Linked DNA regions of Homo sapiens. The protein of the gene in region 1 purifies or fractionates together with the protein of each later gene. This does not show direct contact. Each region holds a gene or a part of one and is shown on either strand. Other genes may lie near its edges. The genes, in order: ABLIM3 and MNAT1.

Region 1 (3,824 bases):
GTGGCTCACGCCCGTAATCCCAGCACTTTGGGAGGCCAAGTTGGGAAGATCACTTGAGCCCAGGAAATTGAGACCAGCCTGGACAACATAGCACTTCTTCTCTACAAAAAAATTTTTAAAAATTATCTGGGCATGATAGTGTATGCCTGTAGTCCCAGCTACATGCAAGCCTGAGGCAGGAGGATCCCTTGAGCCTGGGGACTTGAGGCTGCAACAAGCCATGATCACACCACTGCACTCTAGCCTGGGTGAGAGTGAGCCCCTGTCTCAAAAATTTAAAAATTTAATAAAAGGATGACTCGTTCGCTACTCTCAAAGAAGTCTTCATTTAGAAAAGAAGGTAAGACACAAATACGACTATAACCAAGTGGGCAGTGATCCATCCCCACAGGAGAGGAGTGTTCAGAGACCACAAAGGCAGCAGAGACCACTTTCAGCTGATGTGGGGCTTAGCTTAAACGAGACTGTTTCCATTGAAAAATAAGATTAAAAAGAAAGAAAAGTGGCTTTTCTTTTTTAAAAAAAAAATGCCTTAAGCCAGGCTGAGTGGGGTGCACATGCCGGAGCTGATCTTTTCTGTCTTTTGACAGTGCCCCGAGCCAGAAGGTTCTCGTCTGGAGGAGAGGAGGATGATTTTGACCGCAGCATGCACAAGGTGGGCAGAGACCACAGCACTGAATATGATGCTTAGAGCGTATATCACTGAGGGTCTTTTCATTTACAAGCAACAAAAAACAGATTCAAGCCCACTTATGATAGAAAAAAGAAAAGCATAGCTTTGCATAACTGAAAAATCAAATGGTGGAATTAGCTTAAAGTATGACTAGATCCAACTGCTCAAAAAAATGTCATAGGAAATTTGTCTCTTCACTTCTGGGGCTTGCCTCTGCATTGGCTTCATGCTCAGGCAAGCTATTTTCACATAATGGTAAGCAGGTGCTTGCAACCCTTGTTCATTGCTGGTGAAACCCTTGTTTCAGCCCCTGTGGAAAACAATTTGGTGGTTCCTCAAAAATTAAACATAAAATTACCACATGATCCAGCAATTCCACTCCTAGATATATACCCAGAAGAATTAAAAACAGGACTTAAACAAATACATATATACTCATATCCGTGGCAGCACTATTCACGAAAGCTAAAATATGGAAATAATCCAAATGTCCATCAGCTCATGAATAGGACAAAATATGGTATGTCCATACAGTGGAATATTATTCAGCCATGAAAAGAAATGAAGTAATGATACATGCCACAATGTGGATGAACCTTGAAAACATTATGCTTAAGAAAAGAAGCCAGACACAAGGTCGCATATTGTGTGATTCCATTTCCATGAAATATGCAGAATAGGCAAATCCATAGAGACAGAACATAGATTGCTGGTTCCCAGGGGCACGGGGAGAGGGGAATGGGGAGTGAGTGCTTCATGGATATGGGATCTCCTTTGGGGGAAATAATGGTATTTTGAAACGAGATAGAGGTGGTAGTTCCACAACATTGTGAATGCACTGAATGCCACTGAATCATTTCCTTTAAAATGGTTAATTTGAAGTTAAGTAATTTTCACCTCAGTTAAAAAGAAAAAGGTGGCTATCTGCCCATTGTTGAATCAATCACTGTGCCAAGACAATGGGATCCTGTCACTGGCCAGGCTTGCTTTTTTGTGCCCACCACCAGACCCCCACCCAGACCACAGGACAACTTGTGGAAGACAAGATGAGATTGCAACAGGAAACATGGGTGCCACAAGGTGGGAGGGACGCTGGGAAGGCAAACATGAGAGCAGGCTGCTATGGAGGATGTGATCCTCAGCCTTGCCCAAGCCCGTTCCATCTCAGTGTCCTTTGTTTTCCTTCTAACTTTATCTTGCTCTTCCCCGACCCTCAGCTCCAAAGTGGAATTGGCCGGCTGATTCTGAAGGAAGAAATGAAGGCCCGGTCGAGCTCCTATGCAGATCCCTGGACCCCTCCCCGGAGCTCCACCAGCAGCCGGGAAGCCCTGCACACAGCTGGCTATGAGATGTCCCTCAATGGCTGTAAGCATGGCTCTGGAAGCCCAACGGGGCGGGGACACCTTTCTCTGTGACTAGCTGGCAGTGTCAGCTGTTTGCTCTGAGCCAGGCTCCCTTGAGGCACAGCCCATGCATCCTCTCTCTTCTTCCTCACAGCAGCCCTGTGGTGGGTGACTTGCCCAAGATCACTCAATTTATCAGTAATGGAGCTTACTTCATCAGCTTCCTTGCCTGCTTTTATAAATTAGGTTCTATTGGAATGTAGCCAGCCCCGTCTCAATCCCCTGGGCTAACAAAAGAATCAGAAGAGGCTGGCCACAAAGGTTAGCCCCAAACCCTGCAATGCCCCTTCTGGGAGCTTCATTGAGGTCTAGAATACAGATTTGGAAAGGCGCTCTATGGGGCACTATGTAAGACCATGCTGCCCTGAGCAGTCACTCCCATTGCTTTGGGGCATCTGAAGCTCTGACTTCCAGTCAGATTCAGTATAAAGAAAAATGGCTTGGCTGGGCGCAGTGGCTCATGACTGTAATCCCAGCACTTTAGGAGGCCGAGGCGGGCAGATCATGAGGTCAGGAGATCAAGACCATCCTGGCTAACATGGTGAAACCCGGTCTTTACTAAAAATACAGAAAATTAGCTGGGCATGGTGGTGGGCACCTGTAGTCCCAACTACTCGGGAGGCTGAGGCAGGAGAATGGCGTGAGGCAGGAGGCGGAGCTTGCAGTGAGCCGAGATTGCACCACTGCACTCCAGCCTGGGCAACAGAGCGAGACTCTCTCTCAAAAAAAAAAAAAAAAAAAAAGAACGATGTCTTATAATCATCGGAATGGCTCAAAGATGTAAGGGATGGCCTCCTGAGGTAGTGAGTCTACCATGATTTGAACTTATACAAGCAGGGGCTTTATTCAAATACTTCTTGAAAATCTCATTGCAAGCTCCTCCTATTCCTGGACACACACACACACACACACACACACACACACACACACACTCTGTCTGCCTCCTCCTTTTCTTACTCCTGTGAGATGCAGTCCTGCCAGGAAATCTCATCTCGGATCAATACATTATGGATAATAAAATGCACCATTTATTACACTTCTATGTGCCAGGCATTTGTAGGAATGTTACACTCCTGGTAGAGCTGCAATGTAGAGGGATTATTATCACCCACTTTATAGATGAGAGAACTGAGGTTAAGCCACTTGCTCCAAGTCAAAAGCCAGTAAGTGACTGAGCCAGGATCAGACCCAAGTTGGAGTGGCCCCAAGGCCATGAGCTCTTCCCTCTTCCCCATACTACACCTTGACTCTCAGTGAGATTGAAGATGTTGGTGTTGGCGGCAATATGATAAAGCCAGTCTTATGGAGTGTTATAGATGCGTCAGGCACTATGCTAAGTATCTTACTGTATTGTGTCACATATTCTTCACAATAATCCTACAAAGGAGGCACTATCACTCCCCATTTTGCAGATGAGAAAACCAAAGCGTGATTAATTAGATTGTCTGAAGTTAGAAATCTACTAATGGCAGAGCCAGGATGAACTGCTGAGCCTGTTTTCCTGCCTGACCACTGAGGGCCACTGTTTCCAAGCCCTGGCTGCGGGGTCTGTGCAGTGCACCAGTGCTGTTTGCAATTCAACCTTGTTCAACCACATCTGTGCAACAAATATCACAGAGCACCTGCCCTGTGCCAGGTGCCAGGCTGGGAGCTGGACAGGGAAGGGAGATGGGGTGCAAGTGCAACAATTAAAAACTGACCAGTTCAGGAGGGGCTGCAGGAGGCCCCTTTTCCCAGCCAGCCAGGGG
Region 2 (3,824 bases), on another chromosome or scaffold:
ATTCATTTTTAAAGTTTTTAATTTCTCACCAAACAGCTACAAAAATATAAAATACAACATGTCATTTCACTGTTAAAGCCATACCTGCCACTTAATAGTTTCAAGAAAGAACTAATGAAAGTTGCTAGGGAAGGCGTCATTATTCTATTTAATATGCTGGTGTCCTCATTTTTAGAGCCAAATTCACATTCCAGTCATAGAAAATAGAGTTTTATGACAGTGTTTTCTATCTAAGCCTCATGAATGCCCTTACCCTTATTTTTCCTTTAGTTTCTCACCTCCTTATAATTTAAGTAATCTTGCTTTCTCTTTTTTTACTCCTGGTTAACTGACTTAAATGCTTTTTTGGCAAAAGCACAGTAGAAGAACACATATATACATATTTTCCCCAATCATAGGATAATAGCATTATCAACTAGACAAGAAAGTTAAGTGTATTAACACTGCATACACACACACACACACAAACACAAAAGCCTCAGGGAAATAAATTATATGAACATAAAGGGAAAGAGAAGAATGCAAAAAGACTTTCCTGGAGAGGAAGATTTTCCGGTTTGTGAAGTCATCAATATCATACAGGGTTATAAGTATCAAATAATATAGTAATAAATCCATGAAACACTTCATAAACCTTAGTTATTATTACTGTCATTATCTAACAAGGTTGACTACCTAGGAAGCTAATTGCTGGAAAACAATAATTTGCAAAAACCCCGCTATTTCTTTCAAGCAAAAATACACTATTTTTTTATGCAAAAATATAAAATATATTGTCACAAAGTAAACAGTCAATATAAACTTCAGCATGGAGCCAAAATGAGCTCATTATTAGAAAAATAGTATTAATCAGGAGAAAAGTGCTTCAGAAACAATGTATTTTAGTCAGTTAGCTTAAAGCCATATAAACAATCTATCAAGAATATACTGGCTCATCTCAGTTATAATGTCACTCTCTCATCTGAAAATAAAATGGATATTAAACAAAAATCTTTTTAAAAATATAGAAGTAAAATATACTAGAACCTCATTTTAACATCGTTCTTAGAGTTACACAAAGTAAGTAGTGCCATGTCCACAAACAATACTCTTATCTAGGAAATCACTTTAAATCCTTCATAGTAGTTGGCATGATATAAATAAATAGGCATAAGGGTAAGACAAACTACAATATGAAAATGAAAGTCATTTTCATAATTCTTATCACTAAACTCACATTGGGATAGAGACTGAGTATCCCAAATGAATTTATATTATGCCAAATTCTAGAAAAACATAGTTTTCCCCAGTACATACTGTGTGGACTAAAGATGGCCATCACACTCCCATTAGGAGGTGAGATCTATATCCATTCCCTTTGTAACTGAGTGGGCTCTTTTACTAATATGGTGGAATCAGTGCTGTGCCAGTTTCCTAGCCCAAGCCCTAAAATGTTAGCATCTTCTACCTCCTTATTCTTGGGATATTCTCTCTTGTAACCCTGAGCCAACATGTGAGAAGTACAATCACACTGTTACAGAAATTGATGCAGTTTCTGATGTAGTCAGCCCCTTCACTAGATTCACGGTAAGGACTCCCCTCTACTAGACCCACTGCACTCAACTCTATGTGGGAGGGAGCACGTGGGTGAGTCAGCGCAGATCTAGCCAGCTGCTCCAAGCACCAATACAGGAACAAGTTTTGCATGGGGCCCGCAGTCAGACCAGACACAAGCAAGCAAGTGCAGGACCCAGCCATCCGCCCCAGGCACGGACACAGAAGCAAACTCTACGTGGGGCCCACAGCCAGACCAGGCATGTTGCCTCAAGGGGAACATGGCAGTGCCCAGGTGAGGGGGCCCACAACCCCAAAGCCCCAGGGGAAGTGTTACAGTGCTCCTTTAGTTCTGCCATCAGACAACAGTGTGTTGGCAGCTCAGTTGGCTTCTGGCCTTGTCACCTAGGGCAGCTGCTCTCCACCAGGAAGGGCAAAGTGCCAGTGTGACAGCCTTTCTGGGTACCCACACTTGGTGGGTCCCAAGCTCTTGTCTGGCATCCAAGAAGAATGAGGTCACAGGGATGGTTAAAAGATGGCGAAGGTGATAATTTTATTGAGCGATGAAAACAGCTCTTAGCAGAGAGGGGAGCTGGAGAGGGGACAGGAAGAGCAAGTCGTCTTCCCCGAAGTCAGGTTGTCTCTTCCTCTACTTACTGAGTCTGGGGTCTTTATAGGCACAGGATGAGGAGAATGTGCTGAATTAGCTTATGAGTAAGCAAAAAAGGTTGAAGTGAAGACACTACTCAAAGATGGGCATGACAGTGTAGAAAACCAATTAGGAAAGGGTAGATATACATAAAATAGGTGAAGAGTGGGGATCAATCAGAGGAAAGCACACCAAACAGGAGGACAAGTTCTCAATCTGGTCCAAGGATTTAACTTGTAGCTTGGCTTTCAGGTTTTAAACTGTCTTCAACATGGAGATGGGGTTTCTCTGGGTACCCGTCCCTATCTGCCTAGGCATTTGGCTGCCTCCTGTCGCTATCAAAACCACATGGAGAGGTGTCCTGAGAATACATTAGGGAAGCAGAAAAGCCCAAAAGAACCACTTAAATTCCTAACCCACAGAATTGTGAGCATAAAAACATATTGTTCAGTGTGGATGGAGGGCAACCTCTTATTCAGCAATAAATACACTGATATCAATACATAACCAACAAAACTAAAGGTGAACCAGATTACAAACACTGTGGAAAAGCCCTTTAAATGCCATCATCCAGCCTACTAGGAAAGGTAAATCCTGAAGAATGTTTTTTACAATCACAATTAGCATTAATACATACCAGCTCATCTAAAAAAGCCTGCTTATTCTTCCTTTTTAGAATCTGCTGCAGTTGTTCTTCTTTTTGTATAAATAATCTTCTTTGTTCATTTTCCTGTCGTTCCACTTCTAAAGCTTCTTCCAGTTCTTCCTGTTCTCGAGTCTAAAACAAAAATTTATATATGGCGTGGAATAAATTTAGGAGCCAAGAGCAATCATATACCACACTCTAATACTTTCTTTATTGGAAGCATAAAACACACTAGTCACTTATTATTTAATAATGTAGCAATTCCATATTGAAGAAAATAGAATTTACTTTATTTCATGTAGACACGTTACTATTAAATAAAACAACTATTCTGTTATACCATACTAGTGGAATTTTGCTATACTAAGGCCACTGGGAACATATTAAGGGAATTTGAGGGATGAGTTTAGAAAGATGACTAGAGGCAGTAAGGTATACATAAAGATCAATTGGGTTCAAGACTGACAATAGGAGGACTAGTTAGAAGTATATTCAAATAACCCAGATAAGAAATAAGAGCCCTACGCAGCGGCTCACACCTGTAATCCCAGCACTTTGGGAGGCCACGGCGGGTGGATCACAAGGTCAGGAGTTCGAGACCAGCTTGGCCAACATGGTGAAACCCTGTCTCTACTAAAGATACAAAAAATTAGTCAGGCATGGTGGCACATGCCTGTAATCCCAGCTACTCGGGAGGCTGAGGCAGGAGAATCGCTTGAACCCAGGAAATGAAGGTTGCAGTGAGCCAAGTTCACACCATTACACTCCAGCCTGGGCAACAGGGCGAGGTTCCATCTCAAAAAAAAAAAAAAAAAAAAAAGAAAGAATAGAAATAAGAGCCCTAAATAAAGTAATAATCTAATTAGAGTGGGGATGAGGCTTAAAAATGATAAGGAGTGATCATCAACAGAATATAAAGACTGACCAAATATGGATTGAACACTTGGATGAATGCTGGCACCATTCACTGAAACAAAGAGCATAATAAGAGACAAA

Evidence for each region.
Region 2: the proteins of ABLIM3 (region 1) and MNAT1 purify together in Homo sapiens (affinity purification with mass spectrometry; one large-scale study listed by BioGRID and IntAct). This does not show direct contact.

What each region holds. Positions count from the first base shown.
Region 1 is NC_000005.10:149,245,892-149,249,715, forward strand, and holds part of ABLIM3 (actin-binding LIM protein 3), read left to right. Parts: intron 1-590; coding exon 591-655; intron 656-1,890; coding exon 1,891-2,038; intron 2,039-3,824. UniProt on the Homo sapiens protein: May act as scaffold protein. May stimulate ABRA activity and ABRA-dependent SRF transcriptional activity.
Region 2 is NC_000014.9:60,811,123-60,814,946, reverse strand, and holds part of MNAT1 (CDK-activating kinase assembly factor MAT1), read right to left. Parts: intron 2,961-3,824; coding exon 2,820-2,960; intron 1-2,819.